Linked DNA regions of Homo sapiens. The protein of the gene in region 1 purifies or fractionates together with the protein of each later gene. This does not show direct contact. Each region holds a gene or a part of one and is shown on either strand. Other genes may lie near its edges.

Region 1 (3,500 bases):
GGAGGATCACTTGAGCCCAGAAAGTCAAGGCTGCAGTGAGCTGTGATCTTACCACTGCACTCCAGCCTGGGTGACAGAACAAGACTCTTGTGTCAAAAAAAAGTGATGTTTACGTGTTTAAACTCTGTTTATGGATAGAGAGGAAAAGATGGGTGGCAGGCACATACATTCTACCTGGCACCTGAAGGCTGGAGGTCGATATGAAGGTAGATAGTGCGCTGTGGCAGGACATGGATAAATGTTACTCTGCTGTTCTGAGTTGCAGTTCTCTGTTTCAGTGATTAAGGAGAAATGCCTCAATTGATCACTGGAATAGCAATGGTGGGTTCCGACTGCCAGAGGGAGGCGAGGAGGTTTGGATGTGTGCTCTTGTAGAAAAGGGCTGTGCTACTGGTGTGCAGCCTCAGGTGCATCATAGGTTTCTCGTCACCAGCCTACTCTAGGTCCATGTCATTAGCTTTCTTTGGGTTCTCTCCACAATTACCATCTTCCACGAAAAACTCATTTTTCTCATAGGCCAAGCAAAAAGTAGGCCGGAGCACTTCATCAAATCCTTAATGACTGTTGAGCTCTAACCTGGACAGAGAACACTGACTCACAGGCACTGTTAACCCCAGGCCTTGCCTGGCTGTGGCCTCTAACTCCCCGGAACCACAGGGCCTGCCTCTGTGTCATGGCTGATTTAGGGTGGCTCATGCTGGTGGCTGTATCTCAGGAACCCAAGGCAAGGTGGTTCCCTCCATCCCTACCACCTTCTCCAAAATCTGCCTGGGGTCTGTCAGAGGTTTGGTAGCCAAGATGTGTCTCCATGTTCCAGCTGCAGAGCCTGAGTTGAAGTAAATAAAATCACTCTTTTCTCTTCAGGAAGAGATTCCGTTTTGTAAAACATCCTAAGTTAGAAGCCTTAAAAATCCTACTCTGTGCCCCTCTTTCTATTCCTTTCTTTCTTTCTTTCTTTCTTTTTTGAGACGGAATCTCACTGTGTCACCCAGACTGGAGTGCAGTGGTGCGATCCTGGCTCACTGCAACCTCCGCCCCCCGGGTTCAAGTGATTCTCCTGCCTCAGCCTCCCGAGTAGCTGGGATTACAAGCACCTGCCACTGTGCCTGGCTAATTTTTGTCTTTTTAGTAGAGATGGGGTTTCATCATCTTGGCCAGGCTGATCTTGGACTCCTGACCTCGTGATCCACCCACCTCGACCTCCTAAAGTGCTGGGATTACAGGCATGAGCCACTGCTCCCGGCCTCTGTGCCCCTCTTTCTAAGTGCTGTTCTGAGAATTAGTGACTCTAATTTCACTGGCAAATGCTTTAAAAGGCAGCATTCATACCCTCTCCCTTCCTTCCAGCTGAAGACTAGCCTTTTTCTGGCCAGGAGTGTGAAGCTTTCTGTAGGGCTGTTTTAAAGGCAGCCCTGCCACAAGCCACTAATTGGCATTCCCAAAACATCAGCATTGACATCTGGGAGTCTGCCCTCATCACCACCCACCACTTCTCTGATGTGGCCACTGCCATTGTCTCAAAATGACTTGGTTCCAATTCTGGGGCAATTCGGTACCGATATATGCCATCCTATGACTCTTAGAAGTCTAGGGTATACCAAATATTCCTTTATTTTCTCTGTCTAAACCGAATTCCCTAATTCCCGCCTTGGAGCGTCCCTCTGGATTGGCTGAGTCTCTGTGCACATGCACAGGTGCCTGCCCTTCTCCCTACTAGGTTGTGCCAAGAGTCCATCAGCATGGGGGCCCTCTGGTTGGTGGTCATGAGTCCTCACAGGGAGGCCTCTGCATCCTTATTTGCCTGCCCTCCTGAGGTCCTGCCATAACATACCTGTTCTTCCTGAGGACTTCTGCCGTCTTGAACACTGCCGATAAGTGCCAGCCCTGAAGCTCCGGGGCCCGCAGCCCTGCTGCTCTCACAGATCCCAAGGGAAACTTTTTTCCTAGCCTGGGAGATTCCCTTTCTCCCTCTTCTTCTCCCAGGCCAGTCAGCTTCTTCCTGCAGCTCCTCTCCAATTTCTTTCTCCCCTCAAACCTGTCAGGCTCTTTTGTGAGTGCAGGCTTTTTTCAAGTGAATAATTTGCTGGTTCTGACCAGATATCTACCTCCCCTGAGACAGTGAAACTCAGAATCATTGGCCCCTTCAATGGAGAGAAGACAGAGGGGAAAAGAGAGGAAAATGTGAATTAATTTTATTATATTTTATGGTCATAATGTCATTATGTTCAAATCACAGATACTTATTGTGTCCTGCCTTGTCCTGAGGACTGTGTGAGGCACCAGGAATCCAGATAATGAATGACACACAGCTGGGTCCCCCGAGGATCATAGTCTGATGGGGGAGATAGACGTACCACTGAGATTGTAGGGTGGCGTAAAATGCGGGAAGACAGAACCCAGAACTAGCCCAACAGAGAGGCTCTTAATTGAGGCCACTAGGAGACAGGGAGAACTTAACAGAATATATGGTCCATGCAGGTGGGGATTTTTTTTTCCTGTTTTGCTTATTGTTATAGACCCACAACCTAGAAATGGTGCTCTTGTAATATGACGTTTATTGCTGCATGAATGGATGAATAAGTGAGGAGGTGGTGGAGTCATTGAGAATGTTAGCAGAAGGTCTGTGGGGGATTTGGGAAAACAATATATTTGTCAAGGTGCCAGTGGAAAAGATATGGTGCAGTCATATTGGGTAATTGGAGGAAAGTTTAAGAAGGTGGTTATTTACAAAGGTGTGTGCAGTGCATGGGGAATCCACAAGAGATAGTGTTCTGCCACAGGGGTGATAGCAGTGGGATATGACCAACCCTAGGCCAAAAGGGGCAGGGGAGAGAGCAGTGATTGAAACCGGGAAGGAGGGAGACTCTATGGAGAGGGTCACCTTGAGAAGAACTGTGATCTTCAATTAAGGGACATAGCAGCCCAAGAGGACTGTGCAGGGAGGGAACCAGGAAATGAAATAACATGACCTTACTCTCTTCCCTTCCTCAGTCATCTACTGGGGCTCCTCATGGGTGAACCTCTTTGGAAGCCAGAGAGCGAGGGAGTCTGTTGTTATAGTCCACACAGGCCAGCCTCCTGGGGCATGTAGCCAGTGCAGAGTAGATTGGGAAAGGCAGACCGAGGCCATCCAGACAGTCGCTTTCAGGAAATCAGCACTTGTCTCACAGTGCCTGGACTTGGTCTTGAGGGGCCCTGGAAGTCATGGAACCTTTAGCTGGAAAAGTTATAGCAACACAAAGTTTCTGAAGGACTAAGCAGATATTCTTGTTTTACAAAAATTACCACTTAGCATCCATGGAGTAGCTTTTATGTTCTTTGTCCTTTTAGGCAAATAATCTCCCCAAAGCCATCGCCGCTGCTCACACCTTTCTACTGAAGCATCCTGATGACGAAATGATGAAGAGGAACATGGCATATTATAAGAGCCTGCCTGGTGCCGAGGACTACATTAAAGACCTGGAAACCAAGTCATATGAAGTATGTTTGGATTTTTATGT
Region 2 (2,281 bases), on another chromosome or scaffold:
AGGCCTCTTTTGGCCATCCTATCTAAAATTACAACTTCCACCTCAGACTAACACTTACAATCCTTTTATTTTCGTTACTTTTATCCTTAGCACTTATCAGTACCTAACACACTATATCATTTTCTCATTTGTCTTCTTACCTGGTTCCACTCTAGAATATAAACCGGGAGCACTTAAAACAATACCTATTATGTTGTAAGTGCTCAGCTAATATTTGTTGAACACGTGAATGAATGAAAGATTCCTGGCACAAAGTGCTAATCTTCAATAAATATTGTTTGAACTGAACTGAAACAGAAAATATCTACATAGTCCCCTGTGTAAGTACTATAGATGGGAGAGGGCATACATATTGTTACATGCAGGGTTCTCCATAGATTATATGCTCTTTCTTCAATAATATTACGAAAGCCTACATTTCTCATGTGATGTTATGTACCTGTATGTTAATATGTATTATTTGTACATGCAAATATTAGTGAAAAAAGTAGAAGCACCAAAGCTTTTCTAATTTTATTTGACTCAAACTATATTTTAGACCTACATATCATACAATAAAGTAAGCTGAAAGCATAGTGAAATTAAAGTAAATACAGGTTGTATGGATAGCTCAATTTCTTTAATATAAAATGTAAATTCAGAGATGACTGGGATAAAAGAAAAGTGTCTAGAAAAAAAAACCAAAGATGAAACTATTTAAGCTCTTTACTGCAATGTCATATTCTGATCTCAGACAGTAGAAGAGTAGTAAGAAATGTACAATCTCAAGTCTCTCAGTCCTAAAATCTATCAGTGGATGCCAAAAATCTTCAAGACCCATTAACGTTTTCTAGAAAATAAGTCTTTTTTTTTTTAAACTAAGTGTACTAAAAACACAAAAGCACTTATCAGACACCCTATGGCATTTGTTGCTGAAATGTCTACCGGCTGGAGATTAGCCTTGAGCCGAAGCAGCCTCAGAGCCAACACTGGCTTCCTCCTGTAAATCATCTCCAGCAGAGGACTCTGACTCAGCTGGAGAATTTTCTTCTTCTAGTTCAGCATATTCATCAGAGGTTTCGTTCTTTGTTGTATCTTTATCATTATCGATGGTGACAGCTTCATCCAGGGCAGCATTTGTAACCTCTGGGGTTGTTTCAGGGTTTACTTCCGTGGTTTCCCTCGCCGCTGCATCTGTGACCTCTGGCCCGGTTTCAGCACTGACTGCTGTGGTCTCCGGAGCAGCCTCCACGTGACCTGGACAGGCAGATGCCTCTTTTATGACCACAACTGTAGCACTGGGACTTTCTTCAGCATCTACCACCTCAGCTTCCACTATAAGTTCTTCTGGGGCTTCTGAACTTGCTTTCTCAGTTTCCGCAACATTCTCCTTTTCACCTTTAAGAATTAGTCATTAAGCAAGGTATTAATTTAAAGATCGTGGGAAGGCAATGAAACACTGCGGTCGTTTAAACACCTAAGACAGAACTACATGCACTGATGTGTAACAGTCTTCAAGGTAGACTCTCAAGTGAAACAGCAAAAAAAGAACAATGTATACAGTCTGCTACTATTGTTAGGGCAAAATGAGGTTGGAGCAGGAGGGGGGTAAGTTGTATGCCTAGATAATTGTATTTGCAAAAACTCTCCAGGAGGATTCCAAGAAACTGGTTCTATTGGTTGCCTCTTGGAGGGAAAATGGGGGATCTGCTTTTCTGTAAACTCTTTGAACTTAAAAAAAAACACACTTGAATATATTACTTAGGCAAATATGAAGAATACAAAAATAAGTAGCTATCCTATTCACCTTTCATATGAGACAGCATGGAAGAGTAGCCAAGTTCCTAGCTGGTGACTCAGAAATCACTAATCCTCTCTCAATCTCATTTTTGTCATCTGTAAAATAGGGTATTGATAATATCTACTGCACAGGGTTATTGTAAAGATTAATTAAAATACTGTATATGAAAAGGGGATTAAAATAAAAAGTTCTATGCAAATGCTTATTAGTATTATAAACAACCGCATGATTATATTCAATAATATGTATTGATGATATTCTGTTTCTTATTATTGTCATGACAGGTTAAAACTGATTCATAAGCCCCTAATATCTCTATCCCTAAATAGTGATCATAGTAATTGATAATAATAGCTTGGAAAAAAGTATGGTTTAAAGCAAGAAGTGGCTAGGCATAGTGGCATATGCCTGTAATCCCAGCACTTTGGGAGGCTGAGGCAGGAGGGATCACATGAGGCCAGGAGATCAAGACCAGCCTGGGCAACATAGTGAGACCCTGTC
Region 3 (3,500 bases), on another chromosome or scaffold:
ACACTGAACTCCCAGGCTTAAAATAAGAGCTGGCTTCAGTGACTGACACCAAGGGGAGGGCACCTCTGGGTTGGACCCTGAGGGGTCTTTGTGCTCAGTAGAATCTTGGGGGGCCAGCTAGGCAACGCTGCTTGATGTAATGAGGTCCCTCAGGGTCGGCTGCCTACCTACTGTGAAAACAGTTATTTCTGGGGAGAGAGGGCTGTCCCCAGTGGAGAGCCTCAGAAATGAACTCAGCATTTGCAGGAAGTAAAAAGAAGTGGCCTATACCGGAAGCGTAGGTTTGGCCTGGCTGAACCGCAGGGGAGGATCCAGTCTGGACTGGGGGCATGAGATAGCTCTAGCCCACTCCTCAGAGGTCTCTCATTTTGAGTCCCCATTTCAGGGGGATGCTGAGAGCCTGAGAACCCCTGGTCTAGCTGACAAGCTCCTCTTCAGCCACAGAAAGAGGGGAGGAGGCCCAGGTAGGGGAGGTAGGTCCCTGGGTCCCCAGGCAGGTTGGCAGTGGAACTGGAGGAGTCCAGAGGCTTGGCCCCTCCCCCAGTAATGCAGCCACCTTTGACCCCGTGCTTCTTAAAGATAGCTGGGACTGCCCCCACCCTTCCCTAGCCCAGGTCTTGAAGTCCTTCCCATCCTTCCCACAGTTCCGATTTCGGCTTCTAGCCCATCCCACCCAAGGAAGCTCAGCACACTTGTCTGCGCCCCCTTTCTCTTACATCCTCCTCCTGTCTGCCACTCCCCATTGATTTCTCTTCCTGCCTCTTTCTCTCTCCGATTTTCTCCACCAGTGGGTGCAGGTTCTGCTCAGTCTTCCTGCCTGTCCTCTCCGGGGGCCCCCAGAACTAAGCTGAGCCTGCTCCAGCCCCATATTTTACCGCAGGAGGTTGGCTTCCTTCATGGCCAGGAGGAAGTGGTGAGGGGCAGCTGGCATGCCTGGTGGTCAGGGACAGGCAGGGTCTGAGACCCAGGCCAGGCCCCTCTCCCTGAGCAGGTTTCTCCAGATCCAAAAGAAAGAGCTGGCGAGATTGGAAAGGTCCTTTCTAGACCCTAAAGAACCCCTAATAACCCACAGGGCCAGTCTGTGCTCACGTGGCACAGTGGAAGAGAGGACACTATTTTTTTTTTTCTTCTGCTCGGGGGTCCAGTTTTTTCTTTTCTTTTTTTTTTTTTAGTTTTTTGATTTTTTTTTTTTTTTTGAGACAGGGTCTCACTATGTTGCCCAGGCTAGTTTCAAACTCCTGGGCTCAAGCAATCCTCCTGCCTCAGCCTCCCAAAGTGTTGGGATTACAGGCGTGCGCCACCACGCCCCAGCCTGGAGGCCCAGTTTCTGTTTCAGGAAGTGACCTCTGAGCCAAACCATTTACTCACCTCCTTCTCCATCTTTCTGCCCTACAGCCCACTTCCTCCAAATGCAAAAAGCTGACAGGACACTGTCCCTAAGTCACCCCATCACCCAGCCCTGGACAAGTCCGCCTGGCAGTTTTGAAAACTAGTCCCATGGGCATGCTTCTGAGTGCTGTGTCCTTCCCGTCTGACTGATGGCTCTCAGGCAGCACAGCCCTCCGAGGTGGTCAGGAGTGGCGGCTGCACTCCGCTGGGAATCTTGACACTGCTCCTTAGCCTCCCCTGTCAGAGGCTGGGCCTCAGAGGAGCCTTCCAGGTCTCCTGGGTGCTCTGCATCCGGCGTGGGGCGCCCACTCCCAGAGCTCCGAGAGTCAGGTTCGAGGCCTTGTGATATCCCCCTTACCTGGTGGTCACTCCATTGCCTGGGTCCTGGGGCGCCTCCCTTGGCTGGCGGGGGGTCCCCGTGGGGGCTGGGCGAGGCTCTTCCTGGCGTCCTCTTGGGAGCCACTCTCCTGGCTTGGCGATGATGGCTGCTGGGGAGGAGGAGAGAAAGTTCAGTCCACATCTGCTCTGGAGCCCCTCTAAGGATGCCCTCTCGTGGGCTGGGTTGGAAAGCCAAGAAAAGCACGCACCCCAGGCCAGGCCCTGCGGGCTCCCTGGCGCCTGTGGCTTGGGATACTTGTTTACTCGTGCAGCCCGGGAACTTGCCAGGTAGCGGGGGATGGCAGGCACACTGCTGGTGGTGACAGGCACAGCCCAGGGAGGTTCAGATCACCCTGGCCGCTCAGCCTTCCTGGCACCCCTCAGCCTCTGGAAAGCCCTCAGAACAACAAATTGTCTCCCTGGGCCATGGCTAGGCGCCCCCAGACAGAATGTGGAGGCCCATTTGCTTATCTGAAACTCAAATGTAACTGGGTGGTGTGTAGTTTTATTTGCTAAAACCAACAACCTGAGAGGTAGGGTGCTCCTCACCGAGCAGCCCAAGGCTCCTTAATGCTGAACCACTCGGTACACCCAGGGTGGCCAGGAAGTGCCCTAACTCCCAGTGACTTGTGCTGTAGCTGATGCCCACCCAGAACCAGGCCACCCGGGACACGCAGGAGCCCTTCACGGGGAAGCAGACGGAGAATCCCAGATAGCATCATAGCATACGGAGGGCTCCCCAAGGGCCTGGGAACAGATGTTCCTGCATCTCAGATGCCACGCACCCCTTCCCCCACCCCGCCTCTCCTCTTCTCCTACAGCTGAAGGGGTCCATGTCACTGCTGCAGCGACACTGTGACAGAGGCTGCATCCGTGACTCCCTTAGGCCAAGCTCCTCTCAGCTCTTTCATTTTAGCAGCTCCTCTGTGGCTTTGCAATGTGATCTGTTTAATCTTAAATATAAAGGGATCTTCCCTGCAGGTTTCCCTGTAGCAAGGGGCTTTGACTTCCAGATAATTCTCTTTTGACCCAAACGAGAATCTATTTCTGATACCAGAACCCAGCGGGTGGCACTGGGCGGTCTCCACCTGGATCTGGGTCTAGAAATAGAGCTTCAGGACAGGAGGCACATGCTCAGTGTGCTTAGAATAAGGCCAGGAGAAAAAGCGTAGGTGTACAAGAGAATACTTGAGTGAAGTCACACCGAATTGCTGGGCTACACGCAGGGGAACCCCATTACAACGTGTGGAGTCACAAAGCTGTGCCCACGCCAGGCAAGTCCTCTAGGACCAGGACCAGGAGCTTCCCAGGGGGTGTGAGCGTAGGGGACGGGGTGGTCATAAAAAAGGAGGAACTGAGCTGGAGTGTCCCAAGACCATGAGGTGGTCTTGGTTCAACTGTCCCCTTCTCCTCTCCTACTTCCTCCAGCACAGGCCACACTGAAGACTTTCAGAGGTCCCACCAAGAACAAGAGACCAGCTGAGCACGGTGGCTCACGCCTGTAATCCCACCACTTTGGGAGGCTGGGGCAGGCAGATCACTTGAGGCCAGGAGTTTGAGACCAGCCTGGCCAACATGGTAAAACCCTGTCTCTACTAAAAATACAAAAATTAGCCGGGTATGGTAACACATGCCTGTAATCCCAGCTACTCAGGAGGCTGAGGCAGGGGAATCACTTGAACCCCGGGAGGCGGAGTTTGCAGTGAGCCAAGATCGCACCACTGCACTCCAGC
Region 4 (3,500 bases), on another chromosome or scaffold:
GCCGAGATGGCACCACTGCACTCCAGCCTGGGGATAAGAGCAAGACTCCATCTCAAAAAAATAAAATTAAGGTAAAAAAAGCCTACTTACGGCCGGGTGCGGTGGCTCACGCTTGTAATCCCAGCACTTTGGGAGGCCGAGGCGGGCGGATCACAAGGTCAGGAGATCGAGACCATACTGGCTAACATGGTGAAACTCTGTCTCTACTAAAAAATACAAAAAATTAGCCAGGCGTGGCGCCGTGCACCTGTAGTCCCAGCTGCTGGGGAGGCTGAGGCAGGAGAATGGTGTGAACCCGGGAGACAGAGCTTGCAGTGAGCCAAGATCGCGCCACTGCACTCCAGCCTGGGTAACAGAGCAAGACTCCGTCTCCAAAAAAAAAAAAAAAAAAAAAGCCTACTTATTATATGCTAGATGTTAAAGCATTATACAGGTTAAAGAGGGAAATAAATCAAAATCATAAGTAATTATAAAATAAGGCAGAAATGATTAATGCCAAAAGAGAGAGTATAACAGGATTAAAGAACTCACAAATGCAAAGCACATCACTTTTTAATGCAGTGGACTGCCAAGGGCAGAACTTACCTTTAATGGACTTCACATCTGAGGTCTTCTCTTGTTCTTTGCCTTTCACTAGAACATAAAAAGATAATTATGACCAACTTTTGCAGTCAGAGATCCATTCTATAACACTGTAAAAATTAGACCAGCTTTATTCTAAGATGAGTATTCAAAGTTCTAGAACAATGGACAGCCTTGGAGGAGGGCACAGGAGGGTAGTTGTCAGCAAAGGCTTCTCTAAGGAAGTGACCTTGGAACAGCATCCAGTCAAAAGAGTTGAACCTGCTTATGGAGAGACAATGTAGTCACAACATCTGGGGTCAAATTCTGGCTCTACCACTTATAAGCCATGTGATCTTGGACAAGTTACTTACTTCTCTGGGTCTTAATTTTCTTGATTTATAAAATTAGGTCAATAATAAAAACTACCTTAGAGGATTATTGATGAAAAAAAATATATACCTGTAAGGGGCTTAGAAGAGTAACTAGCACAGTAAATTGAGGACAAATGCTAACCAATATTATTACCATGTGTCATCCATAGTACTAGCTACTAGAAGCATAGTGAAGAAAGGTCTTTGGTTGTGTATCATATCTTATTACTTATTCCTCCCATAGCATCAAGTGAAAACATCCTAAGCCTCTAACACTCAGAGTATAATAATTTGTCTGGGCCAGGCACGGTGGCTCACGCCTGTAATTCCAGCACTTTGGGATGCCAAGGCGGGTGGATCACCTGAGGTCAGTAGCTCAAGACCAGCCTGGCCAACATGGTGAAACCCCATCTCTACTAAAAATACAAAACAATGAGCTGGGTGTGGTGGCGGACACCTGTAAGCCCAGCTACTTGGGAGGCTGAGGCAGAGAATTGCTTGAACCCAGGAGGCGGAGGTTGCAGTGAGCCGAGATCGCGACACTGTACTCCAGCCTGGGAGACAAAGAGAGACTCCGTCTAAAAAAATAAAAGATAAAGAATAATTTGTCTGTAAAATAATCATATAATTGCTTCCTTACTACATAAAACAGTAAAAATTCTGCTGTAGATAAGCTAATATGACATCCAAGATAGGAAGGTGCCCAGCAGCTTAAGCCAAGTGTGAATTCTATCACAGGATCTGACATAAGACTATTTTTAACCCTCTTTTCTTGTTTTTTTTTTTCAACATTAAAAAATCTTACCAGGAAAAGGTTATCAAAATAAGAAATGCCAAAACGTGCCCATCTCTGTATTTGTGCTCTTAAACATTGAAAGGTGAAAGGCTAGTAGCAGGAAATAACTCGCCCTCAGAGTATCTGGATGAAGTCAATACATCAACTGTTGAGTGCTTGGTATGTGCCAGACATGCTCCCAGCTCAGAAAAGGCAATGATTTTGCCTTCAAAAAGTCTACATTCAAGTGTGTGGAGACTAACATGAAAAAAATAAATAAGATCGTTGCAGGTACTGATCACTGCTGTCAGGAAGACGACATTTAAAAATGTTGTAGGGTCACTGGTGTTTGCAGCCCTCTCAGCAGCATCTGCCCATGGACTACATCACTCACTTTAAACATTAACTTGTCTTGGCTTCCTTGACTCCTCTCTTCTGCATATACATCTGTATTTCCTGGCTGATCCTACCCATTCTTAAGGCTTACAATACCATAGATACGCTGTTACTCCTAAATTTATATCTCCATCCTAAATCTTTTATCTCAAATTCATATAGCTAACCACCTACCTGCCATCTTCCATAATTCCACTTGTCTAAAAGGGAACATGTCATCTTCTCCCAAACCTGTTCCTACCTCAGTCTTCATCTTCCCTCATGAATGACACTGTCATCCACCCACTACTCAGACCAAAATTCCGGAAGTCATCCTTAACATGGTCTGTTTATTACCTTCCACATACAAACTATGACCAACTGATTCTACTGCCAAAACAAACCACCACGGTTCCACTTTTACCACCTAAAAACATTCTCCTACTATCAATCAGATCTCCTATGTTATACTTCTAACATATACACAACTCAACAATCAAATATCAGCATTTTGCTTTATTTCCTTCTGTCCCCCTAAGTATTATACATAGACTTTAGAGTTCCTATGAATCACCACCTGACCCTTCCTTTCCCAGATATAAATACTTACTAAATTAGATATTTCCTGGCCAAGCGCAGTGGCTCACACCTGTAATCCCAGGACTTTGGGAGGCCAAGGCGGGTGGCTCACTTAAGGTCAGGAGTTCGAGACCAGCCTTGCCAACATGGTGAAACCCTGTCTCTACTGAAAACACAAGAATTAGCAGGGTGTGGTGGCGGGTACCTGTAGTCCCAGCTACTTAGAAGGCTGAGGCAGAAGAATCGCTTGAACCCGGGAGGCCGAGATTGCGGTGAGCTGAGATTACACCACTGTACCCCAGCCTGGGTGACAGAGCAAGACTCTGTCTTAAAAAAAAAAAAATAAATAAATAAATAAAGACATTTTCCTTCCATGTACGTTTTTTGACTATGACCACATACAAATACTTTTTATTTTTATTTTTTTGAGACACGGTCTTGCTTTGTTGTCCAGGCTAGAGTGCAGTGGCCTGATAACACTCGAACTCCTGGGCTCAAGTGATCCTCTCATGCCACCATACCTAATTATCCTTTCTGTTGTTGAGATGGGGTCTTGCTATCTCGCCCAGGCTAGTCTTGTACACCTGGGCTCAAGTGATCCTCCTGCCTCAGCCTCCCAAAGTGCTGGGATTACAGGTGTGAGCCACCACACCCAGCCAAACGTGTATATATATACATGTATGTGTATTTTTTTTAATGGCATTATTCTGCACATCTTTAAAAATCACGCAAATGGCTGAGCACGGTGGCTCACGCCTGTAATCCTAGCACTTTGGGAGGCCAAGTTGGGTGGAACACTTGAGGTCAGGAGTTCAAGACCAGCCTGGCCAACATGG
Region 5 (3,500 bases), on another chromosome or scaffold:
CTCGGCCTCCCAAAGTGCTGGGATTACAGGCATGAGCCACCACACCAGGCCAAGAAAAGTAATTTATAATAAAATTATAAGATTTCACTATGCAAATGCCCAGGGTCTGCTATTCCAGAGGAAAAAAAATCCTCAAAAATGGCCAAAATGTCCCCTAGGGTCCCTACCACCCCCATCACAATCCACCAGCCAGGCGACCTCTGAAGGGTGGGCGCTGGCAGGGAAGACACTGCCCACTCACCTCTCGATCTGAGAGAGAAACTTGGTCTCAAAGATGCCCCGGGTCTTCAGCGTCTCAGAGATCTGCCCTCGGAAGAGGAATCCCTTCTTGGTGAAGTCGATTAAGATGTTGCGGACGATTTCACCCAGGTACATACCACTGATCATCTTCTCATACCTGAGACAGGAGGAGGGGCCTGGGGTGTCTATGGGAAGTGGCCAGGAGAACTGTCACCCCTCGGTCTCACGGTCACTCCGCGTCTCCTACTGCCCCTCAAGCGCATCATCAACAGCCATGTGCCCAGCCCTGTGCTCTGCCGCAGAGGCAGAGTGGGAGGACCAGGAAGGACCAGGGAGTCCTCCACTCTCTCACATCAGAAACAAAACCACCAGCATTCATGTCTACCTGCTAGACTGGTCTCCCTCCTCAGCTGCCTGATAGCTCTCAGCCCCAAGGTCACTTCCCCGAGAGCCTGTCCTCCTCCTGATCCTGGGTTCTACCTGCCTGTTTCAGGTTCCCACACACCTCACCATTCTCCTCCTTCACAACACACCTGAGCTCACTGCCTCCCACCACCACTGCTGTAGTGACAGCCCCAAGAGGACAGGGCATGTGTGTCTTTTTCAGCTCTGAGTCCCCAGGGCACAGCACAGCATAGCATAGCACTGGGCCCTCAGGAAAGTGCCCAAAAACTATCTGCAGAATAAGCAAATGACTGGGCTAAGTCTTAAAGGAACAAGAAGACAAAAAAAAGGAAAGTTTCTAGATTTTTCTAAAGGTTTTGCAAATACCCAGAGTACTGGTCAAGCCCACAGCAGAGTGATGAGGCCACACAGGAGGGAGAATTCAGTGACCACAACACACTGGAGGTCAACCTGTTCTTGGGACTTCAAATTTCCTGCCCTCTCCATGCTCAAGGATCTCAAGAAATAACAAAGGATTGATTCATTTCCATGGCACATGCCCAAGCCCAGTGTCCCAAAGCTGAGAAGAGTCCCCTGGAATTTGGAACTCCAGGATTCCTCCTATTTCATGTGGTCCATGGAAGAACATGAAACAGAATGGAATCACAGAGGGGTGGGCCACCACTACGAAGTCCCACCCAGTCCTTCTCATTCCACCACAAAGACCACCCCAGTTTGGTGCTGACATGTCCTTAACCCCTTCCAACACTTGCTGATCCCCCCGCTTTTTAACCAAGGGGGTCTTACTATTATTGTTGTTATTATTGTTATTAATTTTTAGTAGAGACAGGGTCTCAACCCTATGTTGCCCAGGGTGGTCTCAACCTCCTGAGCTCAAGCAATCCTCCCACCTTGGCCTCCCAAAGTGCTGGGATTACTTTGATGATAGACTGCACTCAGCCCAAAGGGGGTCTTAGTTCAGGTCATTTGGTAGGCGACAGCATCAGCTAGACTTGAATAGCACGGTTCTTCACTATACTCATTTTTTAGTTACCATCTCTTTATGGTACTATTGGTTCTTCCTCTTTTTCCTCCTTCATTAAATGTCAGTAAAGACCTTAAAGGCCACTGGGCACGGTGGCTCACGCCTATAATCCCAGCACTTTGGGAGGCTGAGGCGGGCCAATCACCTGAGGTCAGGAGTTCGAGACCAGTCTGACCAACATGGTGAAACCTGGTCTCTACCAAAAATACAAAAACTAGCTGGGCGTGGTGCCGTGCACCTGTAATCCCAGCTACCTGGGAGGCTGAGGCAGGAGAATCACTTGAACCCAGGAGGTGGCAGTGAGCTGAGCTCGCACCACTGCACTCTAGCCTGGACAACAGGGTGAGACTCTGTCTCAAAAAAAAAAGAAAAGAAAAGAAAAGAAAAAGACTATAAGGGCTGGTTGCGGTGGCTCACACCTGTAATCCCAGCACTTTAGGAGACCTAGACAGGCGGATCACCTGAGGTCGGGAGTTCAAGACCAGCCTGACCAACATGGAGAAACCCCGTCTCTACTAAAAATACAAAATTAGCTGGGCATGGTTGTGTATGCCTGTAATCCCAGCTACTGGGGAGGCTGAGGCAGGAGAACTGCTTGAACCCGGGAGGTGGAGGTTGTGGTGAGCCGAGATCACGCCATTGCACTCCAGCCTGGGCAACAAGAGCAAAACTCCACCTCAAACAAAAAGAAAAACAAAAAACTGTAAGCTGATTCGAAGAAAAGCACTAAGTAAATAACAGCATGGGTGGTATTTAGAAAAGGCAAAAACCTTGAGGGGGCTAGGGAGTGACTCATGCTGGGTGCTGCTCCAGCCCTTCTTTCTGCTCCTAGGGAGACAACTTGGACCAACTCATCCTGGCCGTGGCAGAGGATGGCCTGATTCCTGGGGGCTTGAGACAAAGGGCAGACACTGCCATTTCAGACATGGTACCTGAGACCTGAGCTGCAAAGCTCCACAAGGCCACTAGGTGGTGCAGGAGGCTCACGGAGGAAAGGACGATTGCGACAGGGCCTCTGCTTCACACCAACCTGCCGCCCAGCCACCCTCACCCCACCCCCTTGTTATTCTGATGGGAAAGGAACACAGCAAGGGGACCGGAAGGCCAGAATCCTCCAGGCTAAAAAACAGTCACAGGCAGCCCCTAGACAGGCATCAACCCTGGGCCATCTTGTACCATGTTGGGGGTCTGTCCTCCCTGGTTCTCTGCTGTCCAAAAGACAAAGGTCAGGAGTGAGCCAGGGGGTCCAGTCTTGAAACCTCTGTTCAGACCTCTCCTCCTAGAAACTTCTTCCACTGCAAGTGGCAGAATGCAGCCAAGTGCTGCCCCCACCCTGACTGTGAGTGTCCTCTCCACCAGGCGGGGTTACCTTTGTTTCCCAGCATTTAGGGAATATTCGTCCACCAGTCTGTCGTAGTGTGTCCTGATATCATCCAGACACCCGTTGTCCCCAAAGGCCCCCCACTCCATGTTGATGCACATCTGCCCCTGGTCCCCCTCCACCATCTCCACGTTCTTCATCTCCTCCATGTAGCAGGCATTGCTGCCGGTCCCTGGAACACACGAGGGGGCAATGAGGAGCGGTGGCCTTGCATTTGGGGGTCTTGCAACTGGGCCTGGGGTCTGGGGCCTGAGGTTCCACAGGCAGGGGGCACGTTTTTTGTGATGAACAAAGTAATAGTTTTTCTTTCCCAATTTTGAAATGGAAAAATTTGAAATGTAAATGGAGAGTCTGAGCCACATCACCCAGAGGGCACCTGCTTAGCTGACTTTCAACCAAGAGCCAATGTGTTCACCCGTCCAGGCAGGGTTATGTTTATTTTAATAGAAG
Region 6 (3,500 bases), on another chromosome or scaffold:
TCTGTGTCCTCTTGGCATCGATATCTGTTATTGTCTTCTCATGCAAGTTGAAGTTTTCATGGTTCTTCATATGCCTCATAATTTTGGATTCTATCTTGGACATTTTTAATGTTTTATTAGGAGACTCTTGGTCTTAATTTAAATCACATCAAGAATGTTATTTTGATTTTAGCATGTAAACAACCTGGCTAGATTCATTCCACAGTTTTAGCCTTCTTCTATGGGCGGTGGCTCCAATGTCAGCTACATTTTCAAAGCCTTTGCAGTGCCATTCAAATATGTCTCATGTATGTTCCATCCTGTGGTCAGTCTAAGGTGGCAGGTTGTTTGTTCACTTCTCACCGTTTTTGACATTGTGACTGAGATGGGATCCATGCATGCCCAGGTCAGGGGGTGAGCTCAGTATTTCATAAACAACTTCATGAGGTTGTTTTCCTGAGTCCTCCATCATCGTGATTTATCTGGTACTTTCTAGTTTCCTGGGACTCCCCTTTTTGCTTCTCCAGTCATAAAGCTGGAGCTTTAGTTACCCTATGATACCACACATTTCCTTGACTATGCTTATGTCTGACTAAATGGCAGGACAGAAAGGAAAAAAGCTGTGGGTATCACAGCTCCTATTGAAGAGGAAGATTCTTCTGTGTTTCAATTTCCTACAAGTCCCATTGCCTCGGCTGTCGCTACAGCCACTTTGGGGTTGCCTGTGGTTTGGGTTGTGAGAAAACAGAGAGAAGAGGACAAAAAAGGGACAAGAGATTTCTACATTCTGAGTGTTAGGATTGTTTCCCTTTCCTGCTTCTTGAGTGAGAATGAGAACCCTTCTCCTAGAGCTCTGTCTGTTCTCATTGATGCCTGGGGTTCAGACTGCATTGCATTTGGTCAGGAAATATGAAGAGGCAAAAAACGGTAAATTCACCAACAGTTCAGTGATACTTGAATTCTGGTCTTCTTTCCCAATCAGGCTGCTCCTATTATTCAGAGTCCTCAAATACTTGCTCTATGCATTCCGTCCACCTTTAAGTGACATTCAGTGGAGAGACAGAGTGCAGTACGTTTGCTCCGCTTTATCCTGGACCGGAGACCTCACAGCTTTCTTCTTAACCTGTGTTCTATACTACTTCTCATCCTTTAAGAAACGATGGGGTGGTAGCTACACTGATGGAAAGACTAAAGGCTCTGGTCTTAGTGTTCCGTGCACACTCCACAGTCTCAGGGCTCCCACCACCCATGGCATCATAACCTGATGTGCACTAAAACCAATTGTTTTATAAACAGTTATTACAAAATGACACTTTATGCAGTCTGAAGGTACCTTTTAGGTTTTGTTTTTAGACTAGGAAAATTATCTTACTTTTTGCATTTGTGTTCTCACTGTAGGGTAATCATTCTGTGTTATCACACTATCCTAGGTTTGCCCAAAGGACCAGCCAAAACCTCACCTCAAGCCACGCATATGATAATGTAAGTAACAAAACTCTTTTCTAGCAGTGCATCTAGTCAGCAGATTATTGTAGCCAGAAAAGAACTCATGGTCATTAATTCCCATGTTCTGCTCAGTATTGTGTTGATGCGCAGCCCCTGTTAGCAAGATGGTAAGGATCAAAATTTTTTTGGAGTTTGTATTTGCTATCTCCACTTCCTTTCCTTGTATTCTCTTTGACTTCAGACATGCTCTTCTACCACTCTATGGACATAACTCTTGTCAAGGTCACTGGTGACTTCTGTATTGTGAAATTTAGAACTGCAGTTCCATAGTCCCTCATTTTATCAGCAACAAATGACAAAGTTGATCACTTCCTCCTTCTTGCACACATGGCTTTCAGACACCAGTCACTTTGGTTCTTCTCCTGCCTCACGTTCATTTCTTCTCCATCTCTTTTGGTGGCTCTTCCTCCTCTACTGACCTTTTCTTGTTGGAGACCCCAGGGATCAGGCTTCAGACTTTTCTATCTACATTCATTCCTCTGTGGTCTTTTGGTCTCATATCTTGAAATAACCATTCAATTTTTGACAACCTACAAGTTTGTATCTCTTGTAGCCCAGACCCCTTCTCTAAACTCAGAACTCATATATCTACTTTCCACTTAATGTCTCCTCTTGATTTCTTCCCAGTCTCCACTCTCAACCTGCCCTTCCTGCAGACTTGCCACCTCAGTCAATGGCCACTCTGCTCTTTGCTGCATAGGTCAAAAACCTTGGGTAATAGCGCTTGACATCCACCTTTTTACTTTTACTTTTGCCTTTTACTTTTAAAATATGTCAATTATTCAGCCACTTCTCACCACCTCCACTTCTGCATCTTAGTCCAAGTCACCATCGGATGGACATTGCAGTGGCCTCTAAGGGAAGCCCTGTTTCAACCTTTGCCTCCCTTCGCATCCCTCCCACCCACCTCATAATCTGTTCTCAAAACAAAAACAGGGGCATTCTTTTTTAAAAAGTGAAGTCATATTATGTCACTCATTTGCTCAAAACCCACCTGTGATTTTCTTCCTCACTCCATTTTACTCAGTAAATGCCTGAAATGCCGATCTGACCGCACCCGTCACCTCTCCAGGCTCACCTCCTGCCCCTCTCTACCTTGGCTCACTCTATTCCAACCACACTGGCCTCCCCCACTTCAGAGACTGTGAACTTGTGTCCTCTCCAGTAACCACAAGACTCACTTTAGTCAGGCTCTGCTTAAACGTCCCCAGTGATGAGACATTTCCTGACCACGACCTATTAGAGCAGTATTCCACCCCAGTCTCTCTCCCACCCACTACTCTGCTTTTATATTAGAGCACATGCCATTGGATATCTGTTCACATTTGTTGATTGTCTGAGTCATGAGGGCAGGAACTTGGTCTGCTTTGTTTATTGCTTTATTAATAGTGCCTGGCAGCTGGTAGGTGGCCAGGATATATTTGTGGAGTGAATAAGGAAAATTATGAGAAGAGATATTTCTAATTAAGATTCTAATATTTTATCAATCCTGATTTTGTTGTGTCACTGAGTGCCTCTCTGTAGATTTAAATTTTTTTTTTCCTACTCAAGGCTGAGATTTTATATTCAGAGTGAAACAACAGAGAATCTGGCCTGAGCCATTGAATCTGCTTCATTTTTAAAAGCAATATATGGTTTTTTTTTCACAGTTTCTATGGGAAATAGGGTGCATTAGGCATAAAATCAGACAAAAATATAGTAAATTCTTGTTTTTGAGACAGGGTCTCATTCAGTCACCTAGGCTAGAATATATAGCATGATCATATGATCATAACTCACTGCAGCTTCAAACCCCTAGGCTCGTGATCCTCCTGCCTTGGTCTCTGGGGTAGCTGGGACTACAGGTGTGAGCCACCATGCCCAGCTATTTTTTTTTTTTTTTTGTAGAGTTGGGGTCTTGCTGTTGCCTAGGCTGATCTTGAACTCCTGGGCTCAAGTAATCCTCCCACCTATCCTCCCAAATTGCTGAGATAACAGGCATGAGCCACCATGCCCAGCAGAAAAGTAGTAAATCT

The links.
Region 2: the proteins of CRTAP (region 1) and MGARP fractionate together in Homo sapiens (co-fractionation; one large-scale study listed by BioGRID). This does not show direct contact.
Region 3: the proteins of CRTAP (region 1) and ARMC9 fractionate together in Homo sapiens (co-fractionation; one large-scale study listed by BioGRID). This does not show direct contact.
Region 4: the proteins of CRTAP (region 1) and AKAP10 purify together in Homo sapiens (tandem affinity purification; one large-scale study listed by IntAct). This does not show direct contact.
Region 5: the proteins of CRTAP (region 1) and HK1 fractionate together in Homo sapiens (co-fractionation; one large-scale study listed by BioGRID). This does not show direct contact.
Region 6: the proteins of CRTAP (region 1) and TOM1L1 fractionate together in Homo sapiens (co-fractionation; one large-scale study listed by BioGRID). This does not show direct contact.

Annotation. Positions count from the first base shown.
Region 1 is NC_000003.12:33,117,014-33,120,513, forward strand, and holds part of CRTAP (cartilage-associated protein isoform 1 precursor), read left to right. Parts: intron 1-3,330; coding exon 3,331-3,480; intron 3,481-3,500. UniProt on the Homo sapiens protein: Necessary for efficient 3-hydroxylation of fibrillar collagen prolyl residues.
Region 2 is NC_000004.12:139,265,665-139,267,945, forward strand, and holds the end of MGARP (protein MGARP), read right to left. Parts: intron 1,378-2,281; coding exon 935-1,377; 3' UTR 501-934; downstream 1-500. UniProt on the Homo sapiens protein: Plays a role in the trafficking of mitochondria along microtubules. Regulates the kinesin-mediated axonal transport of mitochondria to nerve terminals along microtubules during hypoxia.
Region 3 is NC_000002.12:231,359,131-231,362,630, reverse strand, and holds part of ARMC9 (lisH domain-containing protein ARMC9), read right to left. Parts: intron 1,878-3,500; coding exon 1,748-1,877; intron 1-1,747. UniProt on the Homo sapiens protein: Involved in ciliogenesis. It is required for appropriate acetylation and polyglutamylation of ciliary microtubules, and regulation of cilium length. Acts as a positive regulator of hedgehog (Hh)signaling.
Region 4 is NC_000017.11:19,967,829-19,971,328, forward strand, and holds part of AKAP10 (A-kinase anchor protein 10, mitochondrial isoform 1 precursor), read right to left. Parts: intron 634-3,500; coding exon 586-633; intron 1-585. UniProt on the Homo sapiens protein: Differentially targeted protein that binds to type I and II regulatory subunits of protein kinase A and anchors them to the mitochondria or the plasma membrane.
Region 5 is NC_000010.11:69,391,847-69,395,346, reverse strand, and holds part of HK1 (hexokinase-1), read right to left. Parts: intron 3,223-3,500; coding exon 3,039-3,222; intron 398-3,038; coding exon 242-397; intron 1-241. UniProt on the Homo sapiens protein: Catalyzes the phosphorylation of various hexoses, such as D-glucose, D-glucosamine, D-fructose, D-mannose and 2-deoxy-D-glucose, to hexose 6-phosphate (D-glucose 6-phosphate, D-glucosamine 6-phosphate, D-fructose 6-phosphate, D-mannose 6-phosphate and 2-deoxy-D-glucose 6-phosphate, respectively).
Region 6 is NC_000017.11:54,945,852-54,949,351, forward strand, and holds part of TOM1L1 (TOM1-like protein 1), read left to right. Parts: intron 1-1,409; coding exon 1,410-1,461; intron 1,462-3,500. UniProt on the Homo sapiens protein: Probable adapter protein involved in signaling pathways. Interacts with the SH2 and SH3 domains of various signaling proteins when it is phosphorylated. May promote FYN activation, possibly by disrupting intramolecular SH3-dependent interactions.